2 separate regions of the Homo sapiens genome follow, and region 2 is linked to region 1. The links come from fine-mapping of genetic effects on plasma protein levels. A gene starts in region 1. The other region holds a variant in brackets. All regions are shown on one strand. Distances are from middle to middle.

Region 1 (16,502 bases):
GGGACCCCGCGGCGGGCACGGGCAGCGCTCGCGCACCTGGGGCGCCTGTCGCGCCTCTAGACCCAGGGACCCCTCTCACGAATGGGGGACTCATCTACGAACGAGGAGGCTGCGTCACGAATCCGAGGCTGCCGTCCAACTACAGGGGACCCGTCTCGTCTATTCTCCGAGTGCCCCACAGATGCCGCCCTCCTATCAGGGGCTTGGTACCCCTCCCCAGAAGCGGGGAGCCCGGGTCCGCACGCCGCACTCCCACAGACGGTGCGGTGCACACGGCTTTGGGGCAGGAGAGGGGAGAACAGGGCTCCAGCAGCACCCGAGCTCCGGCAAGCGGGGTGGGGGCTGCCAGCAGCTGGGGGTCCCCGGCGACAGCTAAGGGAAAGGTCTCCCTTGAGCGCCCTGAGGTCTCGGGGGTAAGAAAGGCGCGCGGAGGTAACCCCAGGCCCTGACCCTGCCAGCCCCCTAGGCGGCCGCGGGGAGGTCCCAACTACTCCAAGTTGGGGCGCGGGGTTCCTCTGGGCACGTACCTTGGGGGCCGGCCCGGGTCCCCTAGTCCGAGTTGCTCGAGCTCCCGCGGCACGGTCGCCGGGAAGGCTGATCGCCGGCTCGCGCCCCTGCGCTCCTGCCACACGCCGCCGCCGAGCGTCTGGCCGCTTTGTGAGCCCGCAGCGATGTGCTCTGCTCGCTCGCTGGCTCGGGCGCGGCGTCCGCGGGCGGAGGAGGCCGAGCGCGCGAGCCAAGGCTCTGGCGCCCCCTGGTGGCCGCGCGCTGCCTGCCCGACAGCCCGGCCGCCCCAGCCCGGAACGTGGTCATTCACATCTTTTTTTTTTTTTTTTTTTTTTTTAATTTACTTCTATTTTTTTTTTTAATTATACTTTAAGTTTTAGGGTACATGTGCACATTGTGCAGGTTAGTTACATATGTATACATGTGCCATGCTGGTGCGCTGCACCCACTAACTCGTCATCTAGCATTAGGTATATCTCCCAATGCTATCCCTCCCCACTCCCCCCACCCCACCACAGTCCCCAGAGTGTGATATTCCCCTTCCTGTGTCCATGTGATCTCATTGTTCAATTCCCACCTATGAGTGAGAATATGCGGTGTTTGGTTTTTTGTTCTTGCGATAGTTTACTGAGAATGATGGTTTCCAATTTCATCCACGTCCCTACAAAGGACATGAACTCATCCTTTTTTATGGCTGCATAGTATTCCATGGTGTATATGTGCCACATTTTCTTAATCCAGTCTATCATTGATGGACATTTGGGTTGGTTCCAAGTCTTTGCTATTGTGAATAATGCCGCAATACACATACGTGTGCATGTGGCTTTATAGCAGCATGATTTATAGTCCTTTGGGTATATACCCAGTAATGGGATGGCTGGGTCAAATGGTATTTCTAGTTCTAGATCCCTGAGGAATCGCCACACTGACTTCCACAATGGTTGAACTAGTTTACAGTCCCACCAACAGTGTAAAAGTGTTCCTATTTCTCCACATCCTCTCCAGCACCTGTTGTTTCCTGACTTTTTAATGATTGCCATTCTAACTGGTGTGAGATGATATCTCATAGTGGTTTTGATTTGCATTGCTCTGATGGCCAGTGATGATGAGCATTTTTTCATGTATTTTTTGGCTGCATAAATGTCTTCTTTTGAGAAGTGTCTGTTCATGTCCTTCGCCCACTTTTTGATGGGGTTGTTTGTTTTTTTCTTGTAAATTTGTTTGAGTTCATTGTAGATTCTGGATATTAGCCCTTTGTCAGATGAGTAGGTTGCGAAAATTTTCTCCCATGTTGTAGGTTGCCTGTTCACTCTGATGGTAGTTTCTTTTGCTGTGCAGAAGCTCTTTAGTTTAATTAGATCCCATTTGTCAATTTTGGCTTTTGTTGCCATTGCTTTTGGTGTTTTGGACATGAAGTCCTTGCCCACGCCTATGTCCTGGGTCATTCACATCTTAATGCAGGGCTAAAATCAGCTTTCAGGCCCAGGCTGGTGCGAGACAGAAGAGGGGACTGAGGATATGAGGCCAAGACGCAGGCCAGCATGGAGGCATTCTCAAAAGGAAGGCCGTCGGGTTATCTAGATCAAAATCACCTGGGTGGAGAGAGAAGCGAACTTCCTAAAAATGATTCCTGCCCCACCGCCCCACTTGCTGAGTCAGCATTCCTTAGGAAAGCTTCCAAGTCTGCACTTTTAATGAGCTCCCGAGGCGTTTTTTATGCATGGCAAAGTTTGATAACCACCGTCCTGCCATTCCCTGGATAAGTGAATATCTGCACTGCCCATCCCAAGTCATGCACCCACCTGCATCTCTGCACTCCCATGCCCTATGCCATGCTTACCACTGTCCTGCCCCTTGAGAACCGGCCCCAGCACTAACCTGTTGAGTTCCCCTAGATGGGAGGGAGGGGAGAGAGGAAAAACAGATCAGGCTACAGGGACAGAACACTGAGAAGCAGAAGTCTGGTCCTGCCCCATCCCCCACCCCGTTTCCAAATACCAGCAATGTTTGGTGAAATAGGGCTGGAAGGGACTTAATGTCTTCCCCTGCCTGTATACAAGTGATACTGGCCTGTCACCTTTCTCTGTACAACTACACCCCATTCCCCAGACACCTGAGCGCTCTTTCAGAACAAGTCTGACCATCCCATCACCCCTCTCCCCTCAACACAAAATTCTTCACAATGCTTTCCTGATAAAGACCAATCTCCTGGCTGGAGCCCCCAGGCCCCGCACATCTGGACCCCGCCTCTCACCCCACTCTCTCCTCCTCTGACCTTCTGGACGGGCTGGCCCTGACCCCAGTGGAAATGGGCTCCCTCCACTCCTGGGTATTCACTTCTGCCTGGGCTGCTGTCCATACCCAGTCCCAGCACAAGTCTCATTAATTCTGCTCTCTGCTTATTCATCCTCACTTCTTCAGAGACTCTTGCTACACCTGTGGACCAGGCCAGCACCTGCAGTGATGCTGTCTTTGAGAACACAGTGCTTCTCTGGCTGTAAGCTCAACTGATATCACTTACTCTATGTCTGCCTCCCCACCTGGCTAGAGCTCCTGAGGGCAGAGGCTATCTTTGTCTTGTTCACCACTTCTCCCAGTGCCCAGAGTTGACACATTGTTAGTGCTCAAAAAAATTTGATAAATGAATGAATGATTTAATGAATGAATGCCACCCAACCATGTCTGGAACAACAACACATCTCAGCCAGCATGCCAACAATAATGTATGGTGTGATCAATAATAAGTTGCGCTACAAATAATTTGGTTACATATAATAGTTGAATGTGTGGAAGTCAGCAGATCTGTGGTTTTCCCAACATTACTCTGCCTGATTTGCATTCCTAGAAACTTTCTCAAAAGGGAGAAAAAGGAATGGAGTCACAGCTACTATGTTGGGGACTGCACATCATCCACGGTTTATTTTATCATGGAATGCTGTGGGTGGGTGCATCAGAGTGGGAGAGAGGTTTAGAAATGATGAAGAGACTGTTTCTTATGTTCATAGAAACCCAAGTAAGCAGCACTTCCCCATTTATCTGCCCAGTGTGACAGCAAGATCTCTCCAAGGAGTTGTCCCTAAATGTCACTTTTGCCTCCTCACCTCCAACTCATTCTTCAACCCACTCCAATCTGCCTTTCATCCTCACTAACTGAAATGACTTGTCACCATCAGCAGCCTCCTCCAAGTCACCAGATCCAGTGGGTACCCTCGATCCTCCCCAGTGTGGCCTCTGAGCAGTTTCTTTTGGCTCCCGTGGCTCCAACCCTCCTGGCTTTCCTGCTCCCCCCATCATTCCTGCTGACATTCCAGTGCTTCTTAGGGCTCAGACCTATCCCTCTTCTCTCCCCCAAAACCCTTTCCCCAGGTGCCCAAGTCCAGTCCTATGCTGAGATCCTCCAGGTACATTTCCAGCCCAGAAATTCCAATGACTTCTGACTGTACCTCCAGCTTCATACTTTACATCTCCTCAATGCCCCACGGGCACGTCAGATCTGTGACCAGGCCAAAACAGAAGTCTGGATGTCCTCCATGCCTCTGTGTTCTCCTTTCATCCCTGTTAGAGTGAATGTATCCGCATCCACATGGCTGCTTAAGTCAGAACCCCACAAGTCATCTCCAGTTCATCCATCTCCTCGCCCCTCACCTCCCATCCATCAGCAAAGGGGGTCCATCCCACTTTCGAACACCCCCTGGAGCCACCCACTTCACCCCACTTCCACAGATACTCCTGAGTCCACAAGACCATCACTTCTCACGTGAAGAACGACGGTGCTTCTTGGCTGGTTTCCTTCTTTCCTTTCCCTTGCAACCCATTATCCACTCAGGTGAGAGCAATCTTTTTTTAAGAGAGCCTTCTCTTTTTAAAATTTTTGTGGGTACATAGTGGGTGTTTGTATTTAGGGGGTACATGAGATGTTTGATACAGGCATGCAATGCATAATGATCACATCACGTAGAATTGGATATCCATCCCCTCAAGTGTTTATCCTTTGTGTTACAAACCATCCAATTACATTCTTTTAGTTATTTTTAAATGTACAATTAACTTATTGACTATAGTCACCCTGTTGTGCTATCAAATACTATGTCTTATTCATTCTTTCTGTTTTTTTTGGACCCATTAACCATCCCCACCCTCCCTGCAACCCTCCACTACCCTTCCTGGCCTCTGGTAACCATCCTTCTACTCTCTATGTCCATAAGTTCAATTATTTTGATTTTTAGATCCCACAAATAAATAAGAACATGTGACATTCGTCTTTCCATACCTGGCTTATTTCACTTGACATAATGATATCCAGTTCCATCCATGTTGTTGCAAATGACAGGATCTCATTCTTTTTATGGCTGAATAGTACTCCATTGTATATATGTAGCAATCTTTTTAAAATAGAAATCACTCCCTTAAATAAAACCTTTCAATAGCTTGCCATGACAGTAAAACAAAAATTCACATTCCCTCCCATGACTCACAAAGCTTTGCACCATCTGGTCCCTTACCTCTGCCCTTCATTCCCTAGGTTCTAGCCAGATTTCTTCTCATGGTTCTGCAAACTTAGCAAGCTTGGGCCCCACAGGTCCTCTCTTCTGGCCAGGCTCTCTGCCCACAGTGTTCCTTTCCCTGCTTTTCACAGGGCAACTCCTTCTTAGCTGTCAGGTCTCACTCAAATGTCACCACCTCATTGAAGCCTTCCCTGACCACACCTTCTAAGATAGACACTTCCCTCCCAGCCACATCAGCATTCTCTCTTGTTGTATCTGGTTGCTCAGTCGTTCAAGAGTGTTTTACTCCTTTGTTTATTATCTCTCTCTTCCTCAATTTGAATATTAATTCCAAGAGGGCAAACACTGTCTTTTTCACTCCTGTATCCCTGAGCTAATCTCAGAACCTGGCATTCAGTGGGCCCTCAACAAATATTTATCCAGTGGTTCAATGAATGAAGCAAATTCCATAACCCTTGATGCATCCTGAAGTATGAAAGCCCTGTCTAGGGCCATTTCCTTTGTCCTCCTTAAATTCCTTGTTCTGCAGATCCAAGTTCCACTTTCCTCGGGGACCTGTCCCCAGTTTAATCAGAGAGCATCTGCTGCTAGCCATGCTCCAATTTCACAACCGGAATCTTCCCCATAACCATCCCCTGCATGGGAAGGGTGACCAAAGGAGCAGGGGCAGGTGTGGCCATGCTGGATCTGGCCTGAGCCAAGGAAGGACATAACCTTGGAGCAGGGGCAAGGAGGCTGGGAGCTGGAGACCTGCCATCAGCTCAGCCAGCACTCGAGGGGAGAAATGGCAGATTTATTCAGCCGCAGGAAGCACCCAGGACCAAAATCAATACTGAGCCTTGGGGCTGTATTTCTGCTTTTCATTGGCTTATGCACAACTATAATAACTCCTTGTTTTAACATAGTTCTTATTTCTACGAGCCCCACATGTTTTATTTTCAGTTTAATGGATCCTCAAACCTGTGCTACTGGTAGTCAGAAGTAGACATAACTATCACCATTTTATGCTGAGGCTAGGGGAGCCCAGAAAGGCAGATAAATTGGTGAAGGTCACAGAGAGAGAAAGAAAGATGGACCTACTTGCAGAAAGTTCTAGGTGTACTCCCTGACCCCTGTTCATGATGCTATGCTGGCAAGAATCAAATCACCCACTAGGTTCCATCCAATAAAAGAGGTGCCTATAATACCTTATCATCAGCACAGATTTATTTTTAGCTGCAAACTCATATATCTACCTGCTACATGGCATCTCCATTGTGCTGTCTCATTGGCACTCTCTGAATTCAGTGTGTCCAAAATTGAACATCTGAGCTGCATCCCCCCTGTTAAACCTACCCTCTTTCCTGTGTCCCCATGTTGGGGAAACCACTTCCCACCCCACCAAGACCCTAGTGTCACTCTGCCCTCCTTCTCAGCCCCCACTTTCAGTGACTCACTCATCTGTCAATCTCTCTTTCACTCCTTTCAGCTCCACCCACTCCCCACTGCTGTACTTCTAGAATCTACTTCCCACCACATGTCACCTGCACACCACAGAGCCCTTATAAGGGTCTCCCTCTCTCAGTTCACCCATGGTTATTCATTATCCACACAGGAGCCAAAGTGGTCCTCTCTGAAGGTAAATATGATCACTTTTCTCTACTTACTTCCCTTCCTGTGCCCTCAGGACAAAGGCCAGGCACTGCACCATGACTCCTGGTACATCCTGCTAAGCCCAGGGGCCTCTAGATCCTTCTGTCCTGGATGTTCCTGCCCCTCCTGCTCTGGTCACCAGCATCCTGCCCCCTCCACTCAGGCCCTTTCCTGCAGGGCTCGCTCCTGCTGAGACGCTCTCCTCCCTGTCCCCTCTTCTCCTGGAGACAGCCCCACTCACCCTTCTGGCCACAGCTTCTGCAAGTCCTCAGAAAAGTCACCCCTGACCCTCACAACTTTGCACTCATCACAACTGCACAATTGCTTGATGTCATTCTCCCACCTGACATTCAGCGGCACAAAGGCAGGGTCCGGGTTTGTGTCTGTCTCATTTGCTGCTGAACCCATAGTGCTGAAAAAAGGGACATAAGTGCACAATAAATATTGAGTGAATTAATAAATACTCATAGCTCAATTGCATTTGTTTCCTTCCCTTCTTTGAAGCAAAGAAGCTCCAAGGTTTATGTTGAATATTTTAACCCCCAAACACCCCTTGGATAGAAAGTAGGGACTGTGAGGGAATGACATGACCTTCCCACTCCCAGGCTCTTCTGCTGTGGTTTGAAGGTGATGTTGGAATAATTCCTTATCCCAAGAAGAGGAGTAATGAAACAGATGCATTTCTTGACACCACTGAAAGCAGCTCACCCAGCAGGGCCTGTAACTTTTGCGAACACGTCGATTTCACCCATTGATTATATGTATTCAGTAGAGCCAGGCTCACTCCATCTCCCTGCGTCCCTCACAGCCGTTTCCCCCACCCGCCCCCACCCCCACCAACACACACACACACACACACACACACACACACACACATGCCTTCTTGCTTTCTTCCCCCTATGCAGAGCCATGGTGTATGGACAACCCACTTTAGGAGGAAATGATTTTAAGCAAATGAATACCTCACAACAATATGAAAGTAAACACCAGAAAACTCTAATGGCAAAGCAACTACTCAGAAACAGAGAAGAGGATGCCCAAGTCCTGACTACAGAGGAAAAAATCATGAGGGCCACAAAACTACCAACAACATGGGCTGACATGCATGAGCACTTACAGCATGTCAGACACCACAGTCCTGTGTGTTATCTGATGTAATCCTCCTGATAATCCCCCATGAAATAGGCGCTGTGAGAAGCCTCATGTTAAAAACAAAAGCCTGAGTCCCAGAGTTGAGAGATCCTTTATCCCAGATCACTCATTGAGTAAATGGAAGAAGAGCCAGGGACTACTTGACGTCAAAGCTCCCACTATGACCCACTACAGCACTCAGGCACAGCGCTGCCACAGCCCATGGAACCCACAGCATTTCCCTTGATGTCCAAGACTTACGCACTTCATAGTCTGATGGAAAATATGTACACACCTGATCTCTGTTGGCTGAATAACAAGCCCTCTGAGACTTGAAGACAATTTTCTTTTCCTTGCTCAGAAAGGCAATCCAGGTTCTTTTTCCTTTTCTTATTAGCTTTGTATTCATTTACAAAGAGAAATGCAACCGCATGTTGGCATCAGGCTCCACGCAGGCTACAAAGCTCTGGGATAGGCTGGCAGGGCCCTCCTTTCCTCTCAGGGTCAGTGCCAGATGGCTGCCTTTAGAAGGACTGCACAGTGTGGGTGCAATGCGGGCTCATGCCTTGGGGAATAGAAGATGGTGACTGCTGAGTCAACAGAGAGTGAGCCCACAGGACGAGGGTCCCGAAAGAGGCTCCAGCTCACCGAGGATCCCAGGACTGGGAGCAAAATGGAGTTCCTTGAGGAACAAGCGCTCCAAACAGCTTTCAAGCTGGGATGGAAACCAGAGAGCAAAACTGGAGCTGGAGGAGTCCCACACATCCAGAAGGGCCCGGGAAACACAACGAAATGAACCCAACTCGTTTGCAGCACCCCCTGAGAAGCCCCATCTTACTGGAACTCAAAAGGAGTTCCAAAACCACCCACTGAGCTAGCATGAACCAAAACCATACTTCCTGTGAGTATTTCCTAACAAAACTTCCAAAATGGAATACAGATGAGTCAGCAAGGTTCTGCACACTAAATTGAACATGCTCAAGCACCCAGAAATGAACAATACTAGAAACGCATCAGTATTATTATCATTATTATTATTATTTATGCTAAAAACTTTTAACGTGAAATGTACTCCCTTAACAGATTTTTAAGTGTAAAATGCTTAAATATGGTCATTTATGGGCCCAATGTTGTACAGATTTCTAGAATTTATTCATCTTGCATAATTGAAATGTTATACCTGTTGATTAGCAACTTCCAACTCCCCCTTCCACCTGCCCCTTTGCAACTGCCATTCCACTCTCTGCTTCCATGAGTTTGACTATTTTAGATAGCTCATATAAGAATCATGCAGTGTTTGTACTTCTGTGACTAGCTCAGTATCCCCCAGGTTCATCCATATTGTCACATATTGCAGGATTTCCTTCTTTTTAAAGGCTGGATAATATTCCATCATATATATATATATATATATATATATATATATATATATATATATATATGTCACATTTTCTTTATCTATTTACTTATCCATGAACATTAGGTTATTTCCACATCTTGTGAATAAAGCTTCAATGAACACAGGAAGGCTAATATCTCTTTGAGATCCTGATTTCAGTTCTCTTGGATAAACACTCAGAAGTGGAATGCTGGATCATATGGTAGTTCTATTTTTAGTTTTCTGAGAAATCTCTATGCTGTTTTCCATAGCGGCTACACCATTTTGCATTCCCACCAACAGTGTACAAGGGTTTCAGTTTCTCCTCATCCTCACCAACGCTTGTCTTTTTTGTTTTTTTATAATAGCCATTTTGACAGGTGTGGGATGATATCTCCTTGTGATTTTCATTTGCATTTCCCTGATGACTGGTGATATTGAGCATCTTTTCATACATCTGTTGGACATTTGTAGGCCTTCTTTAGAGAAATGTCTGTTCAAGCAAAGATATGGAATCAACCTGAGTGTTCACCAATAGACGATTAAAGAAAATGTGGTGCAAACACACACACACAATGGAATACTCTTCAGCCATAAAAAGGAATAAAATCATGTCTTTTGAAGCAACATGGATGGAAATGGAGGCCATGATCTTAAGTGAAACAACTCAAAAGCAGAAAGTCAAGAACTGCATATTCTCACTTACGGTTGGGAGATAAACAGTGTGTACACATGGACATAGAGTGTGGAACAATAGCCACTGGAGATTTAGAAGAGTGGGAGGAGCATAAGGGATGAGAAATTATTTAATGGGTACAAGGTACACTAATCAGGTGACGGTTACACTAAAAGCCCAGACTTCACCACTATACAATATATACATGAAATAAAACTGTACTTGTACCCCTTAAATTGATAGGATTTCATAATTCTATACCATGTAATTTCTCCTTAAAGTCTCACACATGCAGCTCACACAAGCAGGTTAGTTCACCCCTTTATAGACTGAGAAACTGAGGCTCAGAGAAGAAATTTTAACCATTTACACACTCATCTCCACTAGATTTTTCTTAAGGTCAAAGCATTGGAAGAATTCCCCTGGCTGCACACATATTTGCATATAATTTACAGATGCCTCCAACTATGAAAGACATCCTTAGGCAATTTGCAAGTTAAATTTGTATCATTTCACTCAAGGCATGAAGTGAAAAGGGAATTATCAAGCCAGGGGGAACTGCAGGGGAGACAGCAGGGGTCCCCAGAAATTCTCCCAACATCTTCAGTGGGAGTACACTAAATTCAAGAATTTAGCATCTGCTCAACAAAGGAATATTATGCAGGGCATTAAAATGATGGCTATAAAATCCACGAAGCAACATGAAACATAGAGTGAAAGAAAAGCAAGTTACAGAATTGGGTGCACAGAATGACTTTAGCAGCGGGGAAGGGAAGAGGAAAAGAACCGCACCAGGGACAAGCTGTGACTATGTTAGGGCACAACCGTGGGGAATGTTCTTTTCCTTCTTCCAAAGGGTTCCTAGCATAGATGACCTCTACACGTTTTTCACCCTCTCTGTGCCTCAGTTTCCTTTTTTGTAAAGTGGTAGTCATAATAGCACATATCTATCAGGGTTTTGAGAAGATTAGATCATATACACAGAGTGCTTTGCACCAAATATGACATATACTAAGTGCATGATTAATGTTGGATTGGCAGTAGTGTCTGTTATTCTGTCAGCTCTTAGCCCTCACTTCTGACAAAGATGGTGGAGCAAGAACTCTGTTGGGAGTCATGAGGCCTGGCCCAATCAATGCCAGATTTTCCTGGATGTTCCTAGGACTCAGTTTCTTCTCTTGTGAAATGAAGGGACAGGGCCATGGTACTTCTACCCTGTCGTTGCACTCTGTGAAAAGCTGTATGGTGCCCTTTACATCTACAATTGAAAGTTCCCTGTACTTTCAATCAATTACAAAAAAAAAAAAAAAAAAAAAAGGCTCAAAGAAATTAATGAGGGGCCAGGCTCACGCCTGTAATCCCAACACTTTGGGAGGCTGAGGTGTGCAGATCGCATAAGTTCAGGAGTTCAAGAGCAGCCTGGCCAACATGGTGAAACTTTGTCTCTACTAAAAATACAAAAAATTAGCCCATGCCTGTAGTCTCAGCTACTAGGGAGGCTGAGGCAGGAGAGCTGCTTGAACTCAATTGTAGTGAGCCGAGATCACACCACTGCACTCCAGCCTGGGTGACAGAGTGAGACTCTGTCTCAAAAAAAAAAAGAAAAGAAAAGAAAAAGAAATTAATGAGGAAAATACATCAATGGGAAAATGGGCAAAAGTCTTGAATACACAATTCACCAAAGAACTACAAATAACCAAACTGCCAAGTAACCAAAGTAAAACACATTAAGATAATAAGTCACCGATAAAATTTGCAGATACTTCTAAAAATCATTATTCTCTGGGTTGGCAAAAATGAAAAAAAGTTGCTTTCTTTGTGGGATCATAAACTGGTACAGTCCTCTTAGAGGCCAAGGTTCTTGATATTTATGTTAAGAGCCACAAAATGTTTGTGACCAGTGACTTTGTAACTTCACCCATAAGAATTTAACCTGAAAAGATAATTAAGAATGTTTACAAAGGCTTAGCAACAATTATGTTCTTCTCTGAATTATTTATAATAGTGAAAGCTCAGGAATAACCTAAATGTCTAGAATCAGATTGGTTCAATAAACTATATTCACATAATAGAACATCGTGTGGCCATTAGAAATCTTATTATTTGAGAATATTTAAGAGATGGGAAGTATGACATTAATTGAATAAAAATTCCCAATCAGCACCATCTCTCTAGAAGCAGAGCCTGAAACAAGGATTCTTGAGGAAGTGATTGATTGAGAGCACACTCCAAGAAGGAGAGCAAGGGAAGCAGACAAGTTCAGGGGAAGAAAGCCAAGCAAAGGTGTGGTCTCTGCTAGAGACCACTTCCATCGTGTCCCCAGGGAGCTCAGGAACACAGAGTCATACCCCTTCTTGGTGCCCTTTGAGGGGCTGGTCTTTTGTTTCCCCATGGCATTGGCTGTTGGCTGCCTGGGTGGAGGGGTATGAGGATGAGCAGGGGTGCTCTTTCTTCCACCCCTTGATTCTCTGACTCATGTATTCTGTCTACTAGGGACACAGCACCATCTAATGTCTATTGGTTTAAGGTGTCTATTCAGCCTAAAGGATGTTGCCCCATCCTTGCAGAATATCATCTCTAAACTAGTACCTCAGCTATACCTTCAACAGGCTGTTCCAATCCTTAATCAGGCCAGCAACTTCCGTATGGTATAGTTTTTAAAAGGATCAGTGGATCTCATGAATGTTCTCTCTGCCATAACTTCTTTGCCATAAAAGGCAATGTAATGTGGTATCCCATGCCAGTAGATCAGACACTGATTTGGTCCCTAGCATAGTGGTGCTGGCTGAGACACTGTGGGCAGGAAAGGCAAATCTGACCCCTGAATATGTATCAATCCCAGTCAGAATGAAACATTGCCCATTCCAAGTTGGAAGAGGTCTGATACACAAAGGCTCAGCAATGGTCGGTTTCTGGCAGGTGGAACATTGGGCTGTGGCAGTAGCTAAATTAGCCTTAGGGTAAGGAAACCCATATTGTTGGGACCATACATAGTTTTTATCTCTGCAACCATGGCCACTCCTTTCATCAAACCATGGTGCAAGAAATATAGATGGTATATATGTACAGATTAGTAAAATACATATATTTCCTAGCTCTACGGAGAGGGTCTAGAACAAATGCAACCCAGTATCTACGAGCATACCTAGTGCCTAGGTCTTGATTTCAAAGCACTGTTCTATTCTAAGCACTATTCAATTAAAAGAACTAGGGTTCCTTGAAAAGTGCTTGATTTCAGTGCTAGAGCAGGAAAAATATGAGATAAAGCTGGAACACTTTGTGGTGATAGAAAGTCAGAAAATGCTCACAAAGGATGTGGATTTGTCAAAAGAATAAGGTCTAGATAAATAAACTGTGGTATGTCCAAACAATGGAATATTATTCAGTGCTGAAAAGCAATGAACTATCAAGCTGTGAAGAGACATGGAGGAAGCTTAAACGCATATTACTAAGCAAAAGAAGCCAGGCTGAAACAAGGCTACAGACTGCACGACATTTCAACTATATGATACCCTGGAAAAGGCAAATCTACAGAAACAGTAAACAGATCAGTGATGTCCAGGAAATAGGGGGTGGAGAGGTAAGAATAAGCAGAGCACAGAGCATTTTAGGGCAGAGAAACTACTTTGTATGATACTATAATGAGGGATACATGTCATTAGACTTTGTCTAAACCCATAGAATGTACTGCACCCACTGAAACACAATGCCTATGGATTTTAGTTGATGTCAATGTAGATTCATCAATTGTAACAAATGTACCACTCTGGTAGGGGATGTCGATAATAGGGGAGTCTGTGCATGTGGGGGGGACCAGGGAGTAGGTGGGAAGTATCAATGCCTTCTGCTCAATGTTGCTGTTAACCTAAAACTGCTCTAAATAAGTAAAGTCTATTGAATAAATAAATAATAGAGTCCAAGCTGAAGGAGCTCCTAATGGTCAGAGCTAGAAAAATTTTGGAAAAAAAATAATGATAGTATCGGATTTAACCTACAGAATAAATAAACATACAAATAGGGAAGAAAGGACAGTTCCTCCTTACAGTAGACTTCTAATTAATAAACGTAGAAGGAAAAAGGGAAATAGAAAATCATCATTAGGCAAACACTACAGTAATTGTTGCAGACAAGATCTATCAATGGATGGTAAAATTAGCAGGTGACGGTTTGAAGAAACGTAAGATTTGCATGGTCTCAAAGTATTTCCCCCAAGATATTTGTTAATTATAAAAGGAAGGATAGTAACTTTATTGTGAAGAAACCTTGCAGAAACCACCTTAACCAAGGGATGAACATCAAAATCACCAATAATAAGACATGCTGACATCATGAACCTCTTGATACCATTCACAGAGGATACTTCCTTGGCGTTCCTGCCAAAAATGCATAGCTCATTCCAAGCATGAGAAAACATCAGACAAACCCAAACTGGAGGCATTCCGCAAAATAACTGATCAGTATTCTTCAAAAGTGTCAAGATCATAAAAAATAAGACAAACTGAGAAACAGTTGAAAATTGGAGGAGACTAAAGTGAAATAACAACTAAATGTGGGATTATGGAACAGAAAAGGAGCATTGGTAGAAAATGGGTGAAATTCAAATAAAGTCTGTAGTTTATAGTGTCGTACCAGTGTTAGTTTCTGGCTTTGTACTATGGTTATATATGATGTTAACATTAAGCTAAGCTGAGTGAGGGATATAAGGAAACTACACTATTTGTGCAACTATTACATAAGTCTAAAATTAGTTCAAAATGAAAATTTTTTAATCCAAATAATAAAATACACTTCACATTTTGTAAACCAAGGGAAAAAGAAGAAAGAAAGTATAGACCCAGATAATGCAAACTCTTTTTTATGTTTCCTAAGCCCAAGCAAGACAAATAACTCAGGTAGATAAATAAAAAATCATGTCCACTCCCTAAACCAAACAGAAACTGTATTTAGAGTCTCCACATGCTGTGTTCTTCCATTAGCATGGATAATTGGAAATTGACTGCCTTTAGAAATGATGCCGTTTTTCTCTCTGAGTATAACACAAAATAAATTCCCAGGGCAATGGCCTATGTTATTGAATCCAACAGTAATTAAGTTAATGTATCCTATCTTGTGTGTGGAAGTGTAATTCAGGAGGTACAAATCTTTTATTGAACTCAAATTCAATAGTCATATACAATCCCCCTACTTGTGGTGTGTACAAAGGTTGTAGGAAAATTACAAAAGGTGATACATTATATTTTTATTCTTATGAAGACTGGGTTTATTCACCTGACACAAGCCATTCATGGGGCACCCTTTCATTTGCACAAAGGCAAATGTTCAGATGAGTAAATATCAGCACATAATAAATGGAGCAGAGACCTGAGGTTTTTGCCTGCCCAGTATTCTTTACTTTTTCTTCCACTAAACATGCTCTGATTTTCCTGTGAGGAGCCCCCTCCTGCCCTCCCTCAGCCCATATGATGCAGGAAGGCAGGTGCCTCCCAAGCTGGACAAATGACCCCAGCCTGCCCAACAAGCATATGATTCTCCTGGCCACAGTCATTGGTTCAGGATGGGCACATGACCCAAGTCAGGCCAGTGTGGCTCAATTCTAGGGCTTTCATTGGAATTAGTAGGAAATAGGTGTGTTTTCACTGATGATGCTAAGATGACAGCCAGGAGTCAAAGATGGCCATCCTGCCCTCCTTGGAGGAGATGCCAAACAAGGCCAACAGAGAGAAAGATCAGAGCTGAGGGGGAAGGTAAGCAGCCAGGTACATTTGTCAACACATTCCATTTAGTTTGTCTTTGCTTAAGTCAGCTTCAATTGGAGTATATATATACATCTTATTTGCAATCTCAGAACCCAGGTCCATCTCTGAATTCACTCACTCTGTTGTACCATTATAAATAATCCTATCTTTGTCATTGTTTTAATTATCTTCTCTCCCTGTCTCTCATGTGTCTAGTCTTCCCTCTCACCTCAGACCACAACAAGATTTACAAATCACACCTCTTCCCAGAGCAGTCAGGTGTCCCACCAGCCCCCTTCCCCAGGTGTCACACATTTGAAACCTCTAACTCAGACTTTGAATGTTCTCTCGGCTCTAAACTAAATGGCAATTTTTAAAAGAGAAGAGAAAAATACAGGGAGAAAGACTTTCATCGTCCTTCTGGGGTTACACTTGCAGGCTTATTCTACCAGGTGAGGCAGCCAGACTGGAGGTGCCAGGATCTGTGTTTTCAGGCCAGACACCAACCAGCTCAGTCATCTCAGGCAAGGCCCCTGATGGCACCGGCCTCAAGCGCTTGCACCACGAACGCCATGAAATGAAGGGTCAGGCTAGATGGGAAAGAAAGCTTTTTTCACTGATGGTGTTTAAACCAAGTCAGAGTATCCTCTAGAAGGAGAAGTTGCAGGGCCGAAACCTATCTTCCAATGCACAAAGACACTAGACAGGCCTGCATTTCCATGAGACTGAGTGGCAATGTTATCATTCGACCTTAACATTTTACCCACCCTCCCCCATTAACCAGCATCCTGTAGGGCAGAGACCATCTCCCTGCAAAGAAAAATAGCAATAGGGACAGCAGACACTGTCTATGTACCTCTCGTGTGCCAGGCACTATGCTAAACATGCTTCGAATGGAATCTGCCGTCTTCACAGCAACCCTTTCAGGTAGGTCATCT
Region 2 (16,502 bases), 57 kb after region 1:
TACATAAGTGTATTATTTGATAAATTCTGATATATATATGTACCCCTATGAAACCATCACCACAATCCAGATAGGAAACATATTCATCACCCAAAATATTCCTTGAGCCCCGTTGTAAACCCTCTCCACCACTTCTTCCCACTCTTCCATCCCTAGACAACGATTGCTATGCTTTCTGTCACTCTAGATTAGTTTGCATTTTTTCAAGCTTTATATAAACGGAATCACACAGTATATTCTCCTTTTTTGTCTGGTTTCTCTCATGCAGCAAAATGATTTTGGAATTCATCTATGTTGTTGCACATAAAAATAGTTGATTGCTCTTTATTGCTGAGTAGTATTCCATTCTATGAATACATTGCAGTTTATTTATCCAATGATGAAATTTGGGTTTCTTCTAATTTTTGTCTATTACAGTAAAGCTGCTATTAGCATTTATGTAAAAGTCTTTCTGTGGACATATATTTCCTCTCTTCTTGTGTTAGTACCTAGGAGTGGGTCATATGGTAAGACGACTTTGGAAGACACTGCCAAACTGTTTTCTAAAGAGGTTATACCATTTTAAACTCTCACAAGCAATGTATGAGAAGAGGAGGGATGCTGCTATCAGCAACAATTGGTATGGTCGATGAAATTGGGCTTAAAAAAAAACAAGCAAAACTCTAGAATGTGATCAATTAATCTCACATCAGAGCATGTATCTTTTAAAAAAATTAAAAATAAGGATAAAATACCCACAAATATTCATCATAAATTTAATTAGTTTTAAAAATTCAAATTGCCTGAATGTTAAATCATGAGAGATGAGGTAAATTAAAATTGTACATCTTATGATAAAACTCTATTCAATCATTTTGTAAAATAGCTCAATAATATGAAATATATATTAATATATATTCAGTATGATTGAATTTTCATACATATGTGTAATGAGGAAGGGAGGAGGGGAGAACTAGATGGAAAAATGCTTATTCTTCATACTTGTTTGTATTTTCTTCTCCATATTTGTTTGTATCTTTCTATTTTCTAGGTAAGTTTGTTTATTACAATCAGAAAAAAAATTTTTTTTTTTTTTGAGATGGAGTTTCTCTCTGTTCCCCAGGCTGGAGTGCAATGGCACGATCTCAGCTCACTGCAACCTCCGCCTCCCAGGTTCAAGCAATTATCTGCCTCAGCCTCCCGAGTAGCTGGGATTACAGGTGCCCACCACCACGCCCGGCTAATTTTTTGTATTTTTAGTAGAGACGGGGTTTCACCATCTTGGTCAGGCTTGAACTCCTGACCTCGTGATACAATCAGAAAATTTTAAACTTTTTTTTTTTTTTTGAGACAGAGTCTCACTCTGTCACCCAGGCTATAGCGCAGTGGTGCGATCTCAGCTCACTGCAACCTCGGCCTCCTGAGTTCAAGAGATTCTCGTGCCTCAGTCCCCCAGGCAGCTGGGACTGCAGGAGTACGCCATCACACCCGGCTAATTTTTGCATTTTTAGTAGAGACAAAGTTTCACCATGTTGGCCAGGCTGGTCTCAAACTCCTGACCTCAAGTGATCTGCCTGCCTCGGCTTCTCAAAGTGCTAGGATTACAGGTGTGAGCCACTGCACTGCACCAACATTTTTTTTTTTTTTTTTTTTTTTTTGAGATGGAGTCTTGCTCTGTCACCCAGGCTGGAGTGCAGTGGAGCAATCTTGGCTCACTGCAAGCTCCGCCTCCTGGGTTCACGCCATTTTCCTGCCTCAGCCTCCCGAGTAGCTGGGACTACAGGCACCCGCCACCACGCCCGGCTAATTTTTTCTTTTTTTTTTTTTTTTTTTTTTTTGGTAGAGACGGGGTTTCACTGTGTTAGCTAGGATGGTCTCGATCTCCTGACCTCGTGATCTGCCCGCCTCAGCCTCCCAAAGTGCTGGGATTACAGGCATGAGCCACCACGCCCAGCCTGCACCAACATTTTTTAAAAGAGTAAAGAAGTAAAAATGAGAGGGCAAGGCATGAGACGTGACTGCCAAATGCAGACTGGCGTGGAAGGAGAGTGAAAATGAGCAGGTGCAGAACTAGAAAAGCCCAGCTCCATGCAACACAAATTTTGAGACGGAGGGAAATACATATATCTTACCACAGGATTAATAAAAATTGTTCCTACTAATATAATCAATACTCTGATCATAAAGGCAAGGAAGTTTATAATACAATCTTAAAATATCTCCATCCAAAAAAAGTTGTTAAAGTAGAAAAGTTTTTTCTGTGAAATAAATAAATTCCTTGACGGCATTAGGTGCATGTAGAACCTATTACCATTAAGTGGTGGCATTTGACACCATAAAGAGGTTTAGGGAAGATGTGGAATCTATTAGGTGTTACAACAGAAGATGGTCATGTGAGCATCCACTGCCACCCAGCAAAGCCCAGGGCCCTGTGGCAATGGGGCATCAGTTCAAAGGTGAGGAGGGTGAGAGCAGGGGGTTCTGCCCAGGAGGACTGGGAGACAGGTGTGAGAGTCCCAGCAGACACTGGGCACCAGGTATGGTGTGACCAAAAAGAGATAGGGGTGGAGATGGCTGATGGATTCAAAAAAAAAAATAGAAAGAATGAATAAGACCTACTATTTGATAGCACAACAGGGTGACTATAGTCAATAATAACTTAATTGCACATTTTTAAATAACCAAAAGAGTATAATTGGATTGTGTGTAACACAAAGGAATGCTTGAGGGGATGGATAGCCCATTCTCCATGATGTGATTATTATGCATTGCATATTTGTATCAAAACATCTTATGTACCCCATAAATATATATACCTAGTATGTACCCGCAAAATTTAAAAATTAAATAATTTTTTTTAAGTTTAAAAAAAAAGAAAACGAAAAGAGAGAGAGAGACTGGGACCTGACAAGCCCATGCCTCATCTCTGGCCTAAAAGTTGAAAAATCTGCCCACCTGGAACCACGTCTTATTCCTTTTTGGGGAAGGTGGGGAGTAATCACAGAAGACAATGGAAAGTGAGAACTAGCCTCATGGGTGGGTGAGAGCAAAAGGTGGATACACTGAGAGAATGAAAGAGGAGACCCAAGAATCTAGCCGCAGGCTCAAAGTTGAGCCCCTGAGTTGTTGGAAATTGGTGACAGTTGTTGAAACAGACTCAGTGGATCTCAGAGTTGACCAGGCGGCTCTGCCCAGGAGGCCTTCTGGAGCTCAAGCATCATGTGGTAGGCTGGGAAATGAACGGCCCCTTCTCAACAGAGGGCTTCTAGACATTTCTATGCACAGAGTCACCTTACAAAGGAACACTCACACCAGAGCAAACTGCGAGGTGATGAGGTCCCAAGAGATGGGTCTTCAGTAGTGGGCTTGAAAAAACTGGAATTCTAATCAAGAACTTTAGTTCTTTTGATTTGCTGGCTTTTCTTTGCTAGGACCCAGCTCTGAGATGCAGATTCTTGCTGGAGAGGGTTGGGGAGGGAGGGAGGGAGGGAGAGAAGGAGGGAGGGGAGAGAGAGAGAGAGAGACAGAGACAGAGAGAGAGACCCAAAGATCTCTCTGATACTGAAAGCTGGGGAAAAAATTATCAGTTGAGTCCACAGACTCTTGAATTGAGTTTCCTTGAATCCAACATTCAGATAGCTACTTTCATTATCCAAAAATTCCCTGGTCTCTCCAGCCTGTAGATGGAAATGAAGGCATGTTGACCTTAAAAACAGATTCCCTACTCTTGCCTTATCCGGTCCTTGGAGATCCTCCATCTCCTAACATTCCCCAAGGAGTGTCTCTTACAGGCTCATAAGTCCATCTATCATCTGTGATCACGATGCAGGATCAGCCATGTCTTCCCTCTGCCTTATCTACATTCTCCCCCACACTCAACAAGAGAGTCTCATTTCTGTTGCTTCTGACAGTACCCATCACAAATACATCAACATATGCCAACATCCACTCCAAAAGTGCCTCTCCTGGTGGGGCACGGTGGCTCACACCAGTAATCTCAGCACTTTGGGAGGCCAAGGTGGTTGGATCATCTGAGGTCAGGAGTTCAAGGCCAGCCTGGCCAACATGGTGAAACCCCATCTCTACTAAAAATACAAAAATTAGCTGGGCATGCTGGCTCACGCCTGTTATCCCAGCTACTCAGGAGGCTGAGGCAGAAGAATCACTTTAACCCAGGAGGTGGAGGTTGCAGTGAGCCGAGATTGTGCCACTGCACTCTAGCCTGGGCAACAGAGTGAGACTCTATCTCAAAAAAAAAAAAAAAAAAAAAAAATGTGCCTCTCCTGACACCTCCAGTGCTTACAGATTCATTCTGCCTTCTATACCCAAGTGAAAAATCCCCTTTCCCTGACTCTGCATCACTCTGTCGTATGGGACAGGGCATCCTTCAGCAACTCCATAACTTATGGGGTCCTTTGCAAAAATGGCAACTTCAGCTTCTCTCCTTAAGCCTTTTCACCATCACATTTAGGGACTGGGCTGGGACACTAGGGCATTCCTTCCATCACCCTTCCTTCTCCCTCTGCTCCAGGTTCTCCCTCTACCAGAAATCTCCTTAAACTAAAACTCATGCAAATAAAGAACTAAAGGGGTTCAAAGTGATTATGTTTCTGAGACCTGTATTTTTGCTAGATTTCCACTAGTCTACCTCTCCTCAAACCCAATAGGAGTAAACTGAATTCTTCCCGCAAACCTCTCCACCACTACCCCCTTTTCTCTTGATCCTCTCTCTCAACTCCACCTCTATTCACCAAGTCCCAACGAGCTTTTCCTCTTTTCTTCTGTCCTCTTCCATCCTCAGCACTGCAAGGCTCACATCGGGACAATGAGACAACCTCTACCTGGGCTCCAATCTTTCTCTCTGTCTCTCTCTGGTCCATGGGACCAACACTCTGTCAGAGCAAGGCTGCTGTCTTAATCCATTTGGGCTGCTGTAGCAAAATACCCTAGACTGAGTAATAGGTAAACAACAGAAATGTATTGCTCACAGTTCCGGAGGCTGGGGAAGTCCAAGATCAAGGTGCCAGCAGATTCGGTGCCTGGTGACGGTTCTTCATTGATGGTATCTTCCATCTGTTCCCACACAGCAGAAAGGGCAACCAAGCTCCCGGCCCTCTTTTATCAGGGCAGTAATTCCATTCATGAGGGCTCCACCCTCATGACTTAATCACCTCCCCAAGGTCTCAGTTCCTAATAACACTACACTGGGAATTAGGTTTCAGCATATGAACTGGGGTGGGGGGCGGGGGGAGGCCACAAACATTTAGACCACAGCAACTGCTAAAGCACATCTCTGGTTGTAGCCCATTACACGCACACACACTCACGCACAGCGATGCTGGACTAGACAGTCACCCATGGAGCAAAGAAAGTCATGCTGCATTACCCCGTAAGCATCAGTAATAGCAGCCATTTCCCATGCCCCTGAATCATGCACTCTAAATATCGTATTTTATCAATCCTCACCCAATTCTGTAAGATAGTAGCTATTGCTCCATTTTATAGATAAGGAAAATGAGGTTCGGGTACTTACTTTGCTTTTCCTTTATAAACAGAGGCTCTAAACATATTTGGAGTCTCAAAACACTGTGAGAATCTAGCAATAGCTATGGACCCTGTGAAGGCCATCTGTGTGCCTCCCACTACTGTGTCCCAGGTTAAGAATCCCAGCTTGACTCTACCTTTCACTGTCCCCAGAAGCAGGCCTCTAGGATGTTAATTTTATTTTCACTTAGTGAGCTTGGAGGTTTTCTTTTCTTTTTACTTTTCAGCACATTCTGCACCCCTGGAATGGGGTCAAGCATCCAGCTCAGAATTCTAAAACATGAGAGAGAGAGAGAGAGAGAGAGAGAGAGGAATAGCCATTATCCCTGACACTGTCCCTCAACTCCCCACAAAAAGCCAATTCCAGTTTCCTGAAATGTGTAAGAGGCATTTTCCCCTGCACAGCCAATGTGCCTTTGAAAGAGATGAGCAGAAGAGAGGCTACAGCTGCATGGAAAGTAACCCACAGGGTCAAGAAACCAAGGACTTCCCTTCAGGAAGATCAGGAATTAATCTGATTGGTGTCAGAAATACTTCCTCATGGCACTAGGATTTAAACTCATGGCACCAAAAGAACAAGGGCCCTCCAGCTATATAATCACCAAAATGCCTCCTGCAGCCCTGGGTTAATAGGCTGTCACTCAGACAGGTTGAGTCAGAAACCATCCACAGCAATGACAAAACAAAGCCTCTTCCTCTCCTTCTCACTCACTCATCCATCCATCTATACATGCAAACATTTATAGGACACCTATTGTATGCCCATGGGTTTAGCTGTGTCCCTGTTTTCAATGAGCTCACAGCATAGAGGGAGAGACAAATGATTAAATGGATAATTATAGTGCCACATGAATGTGGATAAATGTACATTATAAGGGATGGATTAATCATGAAACAGCCACACAATAGTGTCCTATACAGCCATTAAAAAGAATAATATAGTGTCATATTCATATCACATTTCCATTGATATGGAAAGATCTCCACAGTATATTAAATGAGGAAAGAGGGGAGCAGATTGCAAAACAGTATTTACAGTATTTTACTCTCTTTAAAATTGTATTTTATATACACATGAATGCTGGAAAGATGTTCACCAAATTATCTACTGGTTAGCTCTGGGTTGTGGGTTTTTGAGGGACTTTAATTTACTATACTCTTCTTGTCTTTCTGTTTTGTTTATATAATTTAAATTTTTCTAAATGAAATAGCTTTCTATGATAAAAATAAGAGACGTTCACTGCAGAAAATCAATGTGCCAAGTTCAGTAATGCAGACACTTGCAGGTGCACCCTGCCCCCACCCCATCCCAGCACTCACTTGGAGAACAAAATTCTCTAAGTCTCTAAAGGACTGAAAGGTAAATGAAGATGTCTAGAGTTTTCTTCTATTTTCAGTTAGCTGACTATTACGGATTAGAGTTTTCAATGCTAAAGATTTGGGAAAATAAAAAATGATACCAAATGGCCCACAATTACCTTCAATGGCAACAATGTCTTTATTTCTCAGAAGTGAGTTTACCTTGACAACCACAGCAGCTTTCACTGGATTTTTCTTTTTTTTCTTTTTTTTTTTTTGAGATGGAGTCTTGTTCTATGGCCCAGGCTAGCATGCAATGGCACAGTCTAGACTCACTGCAACCTCTGCCTCCTGGGTTCAAGCGATTCTCCTGTGTCAGCCTCCCAAGTAGCTGGGACTACAGGTGCGTGCCACCACACCCGGCTAATTTATGTATTTTTAATAGAGACAGGGTTTCACCATGTTGGCCAGGCTGGTCTCAAATCCCTGACCTCATGATCCGCCCGCCTTGGCCTCCCAAAGTGCTGGGATTACAGGCGTGAACCACCACTCCCAGCCCACTGGATTCTTTAAGAACAGCAAACCACTCACCAGCACTATGCCTGGGCCCTCACGCCATCCCTCCAGACCCTATCTGTAAAACACACAAAAGCGGGTGAAAGAGTGTGAACCTGATTCCAGACTGCTTCTCCTGCTCTCACACTCATACAAGGTTTGGGTGTTAAGTTCATTTATTTACTTAGCAAGTGCCTTGTGAGCACCCCCACCCTTTGTATTTGGCTTATATTAGGAGCGAAGGCACAGGGCGAACAAAACAGCATGCCGCCATCCCTGTCCTTATGGAATTCAGGATCTGGTGGGGATAGGCGACTGAAACAAAGTGACTCTGGAGTCAAACTCTGAGTTCAAGTCCTGGCTCCTGCTTACTAGCTGGGTGGCCTGAGCATGTTAGTTACACTTTCTGGGCTTCTGTTTCCCTGTCTCACAAAGAAGCATAATAAACTCACAAGGCTGTAACAGAGATTCCCTGAGACAATGCATGTGAAATGCTTGGCACAGGGCCTGGCGCAAAGCAGCCCAGCTGAAGGCTAATTAATATTGTCATCAGCACTTACACTTGTAATTAGCTGTTATGAAAGAAGAGAGTCCAGAGGAGGGACTGGGTGCTCACAGCAGGGAAATCATTGAGCATCTCCCAGCACCA[C/G]TGCCCACCTTTCCCAATAACAGTGGTCCAGTAGGAGGAAAGAACAACTTGATCAGACTTGGCACCGTTCCTCTCTCATTAAAATCATAGCCATCAGGAACCCACAAGACTGATGCAATTTCCTGACTACAGGGTTCGACTTGGGTAATACGGAAAGGCATGCAGAGGCAGAATGCTAACACCTCCCATTCTAGGGAAATATATTGCAGGGACCCCACCATGCTGACCTTTTCCACACAGAGTATTTTGATTAACTGGCCACTGATTCCTCCCCTGCAGGTCTGGAAGACTATAAACAGAAGAAGGGGTGAGTGGTTGACCAGTCAAATTTTTGGTTCACTGAAAAGGTTAAGAGAGTGCAATAAAGCACAGTGACTGGAGGAGAGAGGAACCTCATCCCAAGTCACGAGAGGAGGAAGCCAGAAGGCGAAGCTGCCCCACACATTTGGCGCTGAAAGAGGCTGACATCTTTGCTTCTGGTCCTGAGCCAGGCTCAGCCTTTCTGCAGGCCAATTAATTCTAGACACAATATCTGCCCTAAATTCTTCAATGTAATTAGCACCACATGTTATCAACAGGAAGCTGGTACCCGCGGGCACTTGAGATAATTGTTTCAACACTGGCATTTCTCTGCTTACCGTGAAAGGTCACTGCAGCCGATATATCTCTGCTATCCCCCATTCCTTTCGTTAAATGACAAAAAGCCGTCCCTTGTCGTTACAGTTACGTCAATTCATGGGTGCAGGGCTCAGGACATCCATACAAAGGCTTCTTAGCAGTAAGTATGCTCTAAGAGTTTGCAATAATTACTTCCTGTGACTTCTGACATCAGCAGTGTCACACCCCCCTCATATAGGCCGTATTGCCTGACATTGTTATATTGCCTGACATCTTTGGGCTGCTGGGGCGGCTGGGGAACGTCTGCACAAGGGAGCCGCCTCTTTGCTGCCCCAGTTGCAGGAGGCCTTTACAGATGGAGCACATAGAATGACAAACAATGGCTGTTTAGAGCAGTACTGAATGTTTTGCTCTGTCTTGTTACTTGACCTGTGAGTGCAGTGGGCTGAGAAGTACATCTTAGTTTGCTGTGAATAGGACTTAGTGTGCTCAGGATGACTGCACTGGACAATTGCCACCAAGACTACTCAGGACGCCCCCACACATTCTCCAGGAGAGCAAGGAAAGTGGAAATCTTACAAAGTTTCCTCACCTCACCCTGCACCCATGCTGCAGCCACACTGAATCCCTCTTTACATTTTTTTTTTTTGAGACAGTCTTGCTCTGCCACCCAGGTTGGAATGCAGTGGCATAATCTTGGCTCACTGCAACCTCTGCCTCCCAGGTTCAAGCAATTCTTCTGCCTCAGCCTCCCGAGTAGCTGGGATTACAGGCTCCCGCCACCATGCCCGGCTAATTTTTTTGTATTTTTAATAGAGACAGGGTTTCACCATGTTGGTCAGGCTGGTCTCAAACTACTGACCTCAGATAACCCACCTGCCTTGGCCTCCCAAAGTGCTGGGATTACAGGCGTGAGCCTCCGCACCCAGCCTACCCTCACTCTTGCACAAGCCCCATTCTCTCACCTCTAGAACTGTCTGTTCTTCCTTTTTCTCCGGGCACTCTTCTCTCACCCCTCATTTCACCTGGCTAGTGCATACTCATTATTCACCCTAGATAGCATTTCCTCTGGAAGCCTTCCCTGAAGCCCCCTGAACTAGGTAGGGGCCCAAACCCTTCAACTTTGACAATCTTGTTTCATGGTCTCTCTCCCACTAGCAGAAGAGCTGGGTAAGAGCAGGGATCTTGCCCATCTTGTTCATTCTCCTATCTCCCATGCTTGGCAAGACATTCAATAAATATTTTTGGAATGAAGTTTGAACACATGGAGGGCATTCCATGCTGCACTGGCTGAGTAACATGAAATTCAGGGGGATATTAGTCCTCAGGGAGACACAATCAACACATTCTTGATTCCAGAGCAAACAGGGGCAAGAAAAACCATACTGTGACCTGGCTGCCCCAGTGCTAGTTTCCCAGCAGGCAGGAGCATCCTTCCCGGGAAACAGTACCTCTGCGTGGAAAGCTGACTGTACCCACAGGTCACGTAATAAGACAGAGCAAAACATTCAGTGCTGCTCTAGACAGCCAGTGCTTATTTGTCATCTATGTGCTCCATCTGTAAAGGCATCCTGCAGCTGGGGCAGCAAAAAGGGGGCATCTCTTGTGCAGACATTCCCCAGTCACCCCAGCAGCCCAAAGATGTCAGCCAATGGCCACACCAAGTCATGGCTTAGGGAGGCTTTAGTGCCTCCCCCATAATCTCCATCAGTTCCCTGACAAGCCACCCCAAAATCCAAACAAAAACAGTGCTCTTGCTCTGCCTCCCCTCTCCCTCCAAAGAGAGATTCTGGATATCCCACTACCCCCAGGATAAATGCCAAAATCCTTCCTGTGGCCAAGCCCTGCTGTCTCTCCAGCCTCCCACGCACATCCCCAGCCCTCACTCCCAGGGCTCTGGCCACACAGGCTTCTGTCCACCCACACCTCCTGGCTCTGGCCTCTCCTGGTTGGCTCAGGCCTCTGCATCCTTCAAAGTGTTCCCTCCCTCCAGGACACCCACACAGAGGGGCAGATCCCCCAGAGCGCCACACTCCTCTCCCACACAGGCTTTCTCCTGCCATGACTCTACACTAAGTTTGTGCTTACTTGGTTTATTGCTTGCCTCCCCCACTAGACTGTCAATGTGAGGAGGGCAGACCCAAGACTAGGTCTGCTTTGGCTCATTTATCCCCCAGTACTCAAGTGGCATGCAACAAAATTCTGTGGAGAGAAGAAATGCATGAGCTAACCTAGGTCAACATTACACAAACTGCCTCTTAATGAAATGCCAATGAGAGCTTGTAAGTAAAAGTTTGAAAATACAGTGAACTCTTACCTCACAGTATGCATTCGCGTAAGAAAAAAAAGAACTCACCATCCTGCAAGAAAGAAACCTGTTTAATTTTAATGCGATGTTTCCCAGCTTAGCTGAGTATGAAATCCTGTTCTCCTCTCCTTCAACTTCCTAGAGAGTAGTATGCCTTAGAACAGCAGTTTGGGAAACACTATCCTAAATCATGTTTCTGTGTTTAAATGTTCTATTTAAACAAACTGGTAAAGACGCAGTTCTTCAAGATACTCTGAGCCACAGAGCCTTGTGAGGTGGGGCAGGATCCGAGGTGCTCCTGCTTCCTGCCTGCCCGTCCCTGCTCTGCCTTCTGTGGTCTGTGCCAGGATGGCTTTGGGAAATCATGTTGCTACAGACAGAAAGCCTCACTTCCCTAGGGGTTAGGCCAGAACTAAGAACCAGGCGGGAACTTGGACAGGCATGGAGTAGGCATCTTTTCAAGTTCACAGTTCCTTCCCACCACATGCTGGCCACACAAAACAAGAACAGCAATTGGTATCGGCACTTTTCCAGTCATGGTTACTGATGTGATCCTTTTTGCCTCGAACAAAACCTAGTAGGTAATTCAGATATAATTTTTCTTATTTAAAAGATTAGAGGAATAAGACCCATGAGGTTCAAGAAATTTGCTCAAGGTCACTTGGCCCCGGAAGTTGCAGAACTTGAACAAAAGTACGAGAGCTGAGGCTCTTTCTTCTATGCCACAAGGTTACTCTTTCAAACTAAAACTGTCCCTAAAGAGGCAGCTGCCGGCCAAGCAGGTCTGCAAGCGCCGAGAGAACTCCTTATGCTGGCGGGTAATTTGGGCTTATCGCTGTGTGATAAGTTGCCATAACTGGCCTAATGCATCTATGGCAGAGGCTGCCAACTGGTAGCCTCAGGACTGGATCTGATGAGTGTGTTTTATTCAGCCACATAGTGGGGTTGTTTTTTAGTTACCTACATTTAAAATTCAAGAAATTTCACCTTACAATCTGGATGAAAACTCAGAGGCCTCCCCCTACCCTCAGCTCTGTGTCCTTGTGATGACCGTCAGCTGGAGGTGCAGCAGCTTCCCTTTCCAATATTTGCTTACTTACAGGCCCTATGGCCATTAGAATGTTGCTCCCCTGCTTTGTAGATGATGGGCACTTGTTCCCAAGACCACCAGACACAGAGATGTGGCAGAACAGGACAGAGGGATTATAGAGAAAGAGGGAGAAACACCAAGAAGAACATCTTCTGAAGTCAGGGATAAGAACCTCCGCTAAAAATAAAAGCAAGCTTCTGCAACAGAGGGAAATTGTAAACATAAATTTCCTTTAACCAGCATCCAAACATTTTAATATTTATGCCTAGACTTTCCCAGGCAATTTTAATTCACATTACACTCTTCCTACAGAAAAGAAAAAGGAAGACAGGGGGTACAGAATGTGGAAAAAAATACTTAAAATGCCATCATTTAAGTGGAAATGAATCCTTTTCAAAACACTGTGTCCAGAGGAGCTGTTGCCTCGAGAGGTGGTTTGTCAGTTCTGTGCACCACTCAAAATCCATTGAAAGCTATAAAAAGCACCTGCCGTCTTCCACAAACTCCAGATTCATTTTCTCCGGGGTTGGATTCTAATGTGGCCCCTTTGCAGCAGAAGCAGAGCTGGGGGCGACAGCTGAGGAACTGCTCAGGCCTGTGACAGGCGAACTTGTTATATTACATTTCAAAGCCACACACTGTTTTAAAGAGAGGCAAAGCCATCCAGAGATGCAGCATCTCAAACCCAACTTTGTCAGGCCTGGCTGGCAGCAGGGGGGAGAATACTGATGCAGAAATAGCCAAGCACACTTTTCAAGTTCTTCAGAGTTCAATAGGTCACGTTGGTTCTTTCTTTCAGCAAATTCACCTCATATTGGCTGCGGAGCTGGATGGCTGGGTTTTGTATGGGGGATGGGGATTAAGTTCTCTCCATCCCTCATACAAAACTCCCCAACCCCCACACAAAAACCCTCAAGTCAGCCCACTCTCCAAATGCAGGTTTACCATTTTCTCCCTGCAAGGAGCCGTCCAGCATCTCTCCAACCCTCCCCACCCTTGCTTTCCTCCCAACTGCTGGAGTCTTTGGTCTTTTTTTTTTTTTTTTTTTTTTTGAGACGGAGTCTCACTCTGTCACCAGGCTGGAGTGCAGTGGCGCGACTCAACTCACTGAACCTCCACCTCCTGGGTTCAAGCGATTCTCCTGCCTCAGCCTTCCAAGTAGCTGGGATTATAGACACGCGCCACCATGCCCAGCTAATTTTTGTATTTTTAGTAGAGACGGGGTTTCACCATGTTGGCCAGGATGGTCTTGATCTCCTGACCTCGTGATCTGCCTGCCTCGGCCTCCTAAAGTGCTGGGATTACAGGCATGAGCCACCTCACCTGGCCATCTTTGGTCTTTTTAACACATGATCTACTGCCTGTCCTTTTTACATGTGGAGCTTTGTGACTTGCAGCTACACAGGTTGATCTCTGAGGGCAGGGACAAGGCCTCCTGTTTCTCTTTGTAAACACACATGGTGTAAGTGTGCAGTGGGAATAACCATCCCTACGCAGTAGGCAGACTGGACAGGAGGCTCAAGGCCCTAGTGTGGGAAGAAACAGCAGAACTCGGACCTAGGGGACCATGTGGCTGGAAAGACGGCAGCTCAGTGGCCAATGGCAGAGCCTTCCCAAGCCCTTGGCACTGCCTGAGGAGAGGCAGTACTCAAGAATGACTGAGCCCAAGTTTCTGCCAGCCTGGTAGGATAGGGACTCAGATTTACAGAAAATGAGACACAATACACCTCTGAGTTTATGACCTGAAACTCCTATCAGCCTAAAATCCAGCTGAAAGGATGACAGAGGAAACAAAGAAAGGAAGTGGAGATTTCAGCCTCAGTGCAGAGGAGGGAGGCATTGAGAACACACGGGAAGGAGGCTGTGACATAGGCTGCAGGAGCAAGGAGTGGGGCACAGCTGAGTCCCAGATCTGAGCCTGGTGGTACATGTGCTTACAAAACCACAGTGCCTATTCGGACAGAACTTACGTATTGATTTCAGCATGGACCTGGACCCCTATTGTCAGTCCCCCAGGACAAACCACTAAAACCCATCTGGAAGCCCCAAGGGAAGTAGGGTGCCTTCTGAGCAAAGTCTCAGCCTGTATGAGTTCATTTTCACACTGCTATAAAGAGCTGCCTGAGACTGGGTAATTTATAAAGAAAAGAGATTTAATTGACTCACAGTTCCGCATGTCTAGGGAGGCGTCAGGAAACTTACAATCATGGCGGAAGGGAAAGTAGGCACGTCTTACATGGTGGCAGGTGAGAGAGAGCATGTGATGGAGGAACTGTCAAACACTTATAAAACCATCAGGTCTCATGAGAACTCACTCACTATCGCAAGAACAGCATGGGGGAAACCACCCCCATGATCTAATCACCTACCACCAGGTCCCTCCCTTGACACATGGAGGTTACGGGGATTACAATTTGAGATGAGATTTGGGTGGGGACCCAGAACCAAACCATATCACAGCCCCAGGGGAAGATACTTGGGTACAAAACCATGTGGTGTCACACCGCAAGTGGCTGTCTCCCACAAAAGCTCCAGGACGTGAACCAAGCTTCCTAAACCTCCTTCACCAGCAAGCAGGGTGTTTCACACATGGTTGAATGCAGAATGAATGTGTCAATGCATCAGTGACACCCACATCTACCACCCATTCATTAAAGAAATATTTATTCAGCACCAGTTGCCTCATGCCACATGCACTGCACGTGCACATGTTCCAGCACAAGGGACACAGCAGTGAACGAGGCAGACCTGGACAGACATGGTCCCTGCCTTCATGGAACTCGCCCTCTAGTTGAGGGAAAAGGCCACCAAAAACTAACAAATGGATTATTTCAGGTAGGGGCCAGGGCAATTAAAGAAAATTAAAGCAAGATGAGAGAGAAAAAGTTTGGGAAGAGGCTGGGCATGGTGGCTCACACCTGTGATCCCAACACTTTGGGAAGCTAGGAGGAGTTCCAGACCAGCCTGGGTAACATAGTGTTATCTCATTTCTACAAAAAAAAAAAATTTTTTAATTAACCAGGCATGGTGGCATGTACCCTTAGTCTTAGCTACTGAGGAGGCTGAAGTGAGAAGATTGCTTGAGCCCGGGAGTTTGAGGCTGTAGTGAACCAGGGACACACCACTGCACTCCAGCCTGGGCAACAGAGCAAGACCCTGGCTCAAATTTTAAAAAGTTGGAAGAAAAATGTATCTTGGTGGTCAGAAAAGACCACCTGCAGGAAGGGTGGCATGTGAGCAGAGACATTTGTGAAGATCTGGGGGAGGACTATTCCAAGCAGAGGGAAGAGCAGAAATAAAACCCCTAAGGCAGTGGTGGGTATGGCAGGAACAGCAAGGGGGCCAGGGTGGCCCAGGTGGGGAGGGGCTGTAGGAGGTGGCTCACGGTGGCTGGTGGTGCCACTCACTCACCACAAGTGTCCTCACAGCAGGTGCTGCCTGTTACTCTTCTTTTATCCCCAGAACGTAGCCCAGGAGGGATATGCAGAGGAAGGTTGTAGCTTGACTGCTCCCACCCCTCATCTGAGCCTCTAGCACCACAAAGTCCCCACAAATCCTGCTGATAAGAGACAGCCCACAGAGCACCCATCCTTAAATGAGATAAAATGGAGTGTTTTCCAACCTAGAACTTTCTGAACATCCCCATCAGGGCCCAACATTCATGTTTGATATCAGCTCAAAGGAAATTTTCTCTTAAAGCATTAGTTACATCTGTTCTGCTATTTTTGCATCTAGGGGAGCAGGAAGCCCAAAAAAAAAGCCTTCCTTTAAAGAAAGATTCCGGAGGTTTCTTCCCCTCCTGCTTGAGTCATTGAAGTGATGCTGAACTCCCCAGATGGAGACAGAAAGCGGGTAGAGAGATGAGAGAAAAATGCTACCAAGGTCATGAATGAAGCCCTTGTGATTGGCCGGAGGTACTGTCTGTGCCTTGGCTAGAGACTGAGGGACTAGACACAGAAAGAGCAATAAGGCAAAGACAGGCTGGGCACAGTGGCTCACGCCTGTAATTCCAACACTTTGGGAGGCCAAGGCAGGCGGATCATTTGAGGTCAGGAATTTGAGACCAGCCTGACCAACATGGTGAAACCCCGTCTCTACTAAAAAAATACAAAAATTAGCTGGGTGTGGTGGCAGTCTCCTGTAATCCCAGCTACTCAGGAGGCTGAGGCAGAAGAATCACTTGAACCTGGGAGGCGGAGGTTGCAATAAGCCGAGATCACACCACCACACTCCAGCCTGGGTGACAGAGCAAGTCTCTGTCTCAAAAATAATAATAATAATAATAATGATAATAATAATAATAATAATAATAATAATAATAATGGAAAGATGAGGGCAGAGGTCAAGGTCCATCCATCAGCCCCAGTGTCCTCCTGTTGTGTCCCCTCCACTCCTTCCCTGAGCTGCTGCCAGTCACACCCGATCACCTCCCTTGAGGCCATTGCGCAGCCACAGCCTCT

Alleles and levels. Positions count from the first base shown, and alleles are read on the strand shown. Strength reflects both the effect of a copy and how common the allele is.
With allele C in place of G in region 2, the plasma level of the protein whose gene starts at base 675 in region 1 is higher (moderate association).

What was found. PIP is the posterior inclusion probability: the model's chance that the variant is causal. The UK Biobank Pharma Proteomics Project read protein levels with antibody pairs (Olink). The fine-mapping took linkage between variants from a reference panel, not from the people measured, so its PIPs are less certain.
Region 2: its variant is fine-mapped to the plasma level of the SPOCK1 protein (UK Biobank, PIP above 0.99).

The regions. Positions count from the first base shown.
Region 1 is chr5:137,498,652-137,515,153 of GRCh38, forward strand. It overlaps SPOCK1 (SPARC (osteonectin), cwcv and kazal like domains proteoglycan 1), which reads right to left and starts at 675. Exons shown (of 11, transcript NM_004598.4): 1 at 528-675. RefSeq lists a silencer at 626-845.
Region 2 is chr5:137,555,630-137,572,131 of GRCh38, forward strand. No RefSeq gene overlaps it. Among named protein-coding and RNA genes, the nearest start is that of SPOCK1, 65 kb to the left of the region's middle. The variant C/G (reference allele first, on the strand shown) is at 8,027.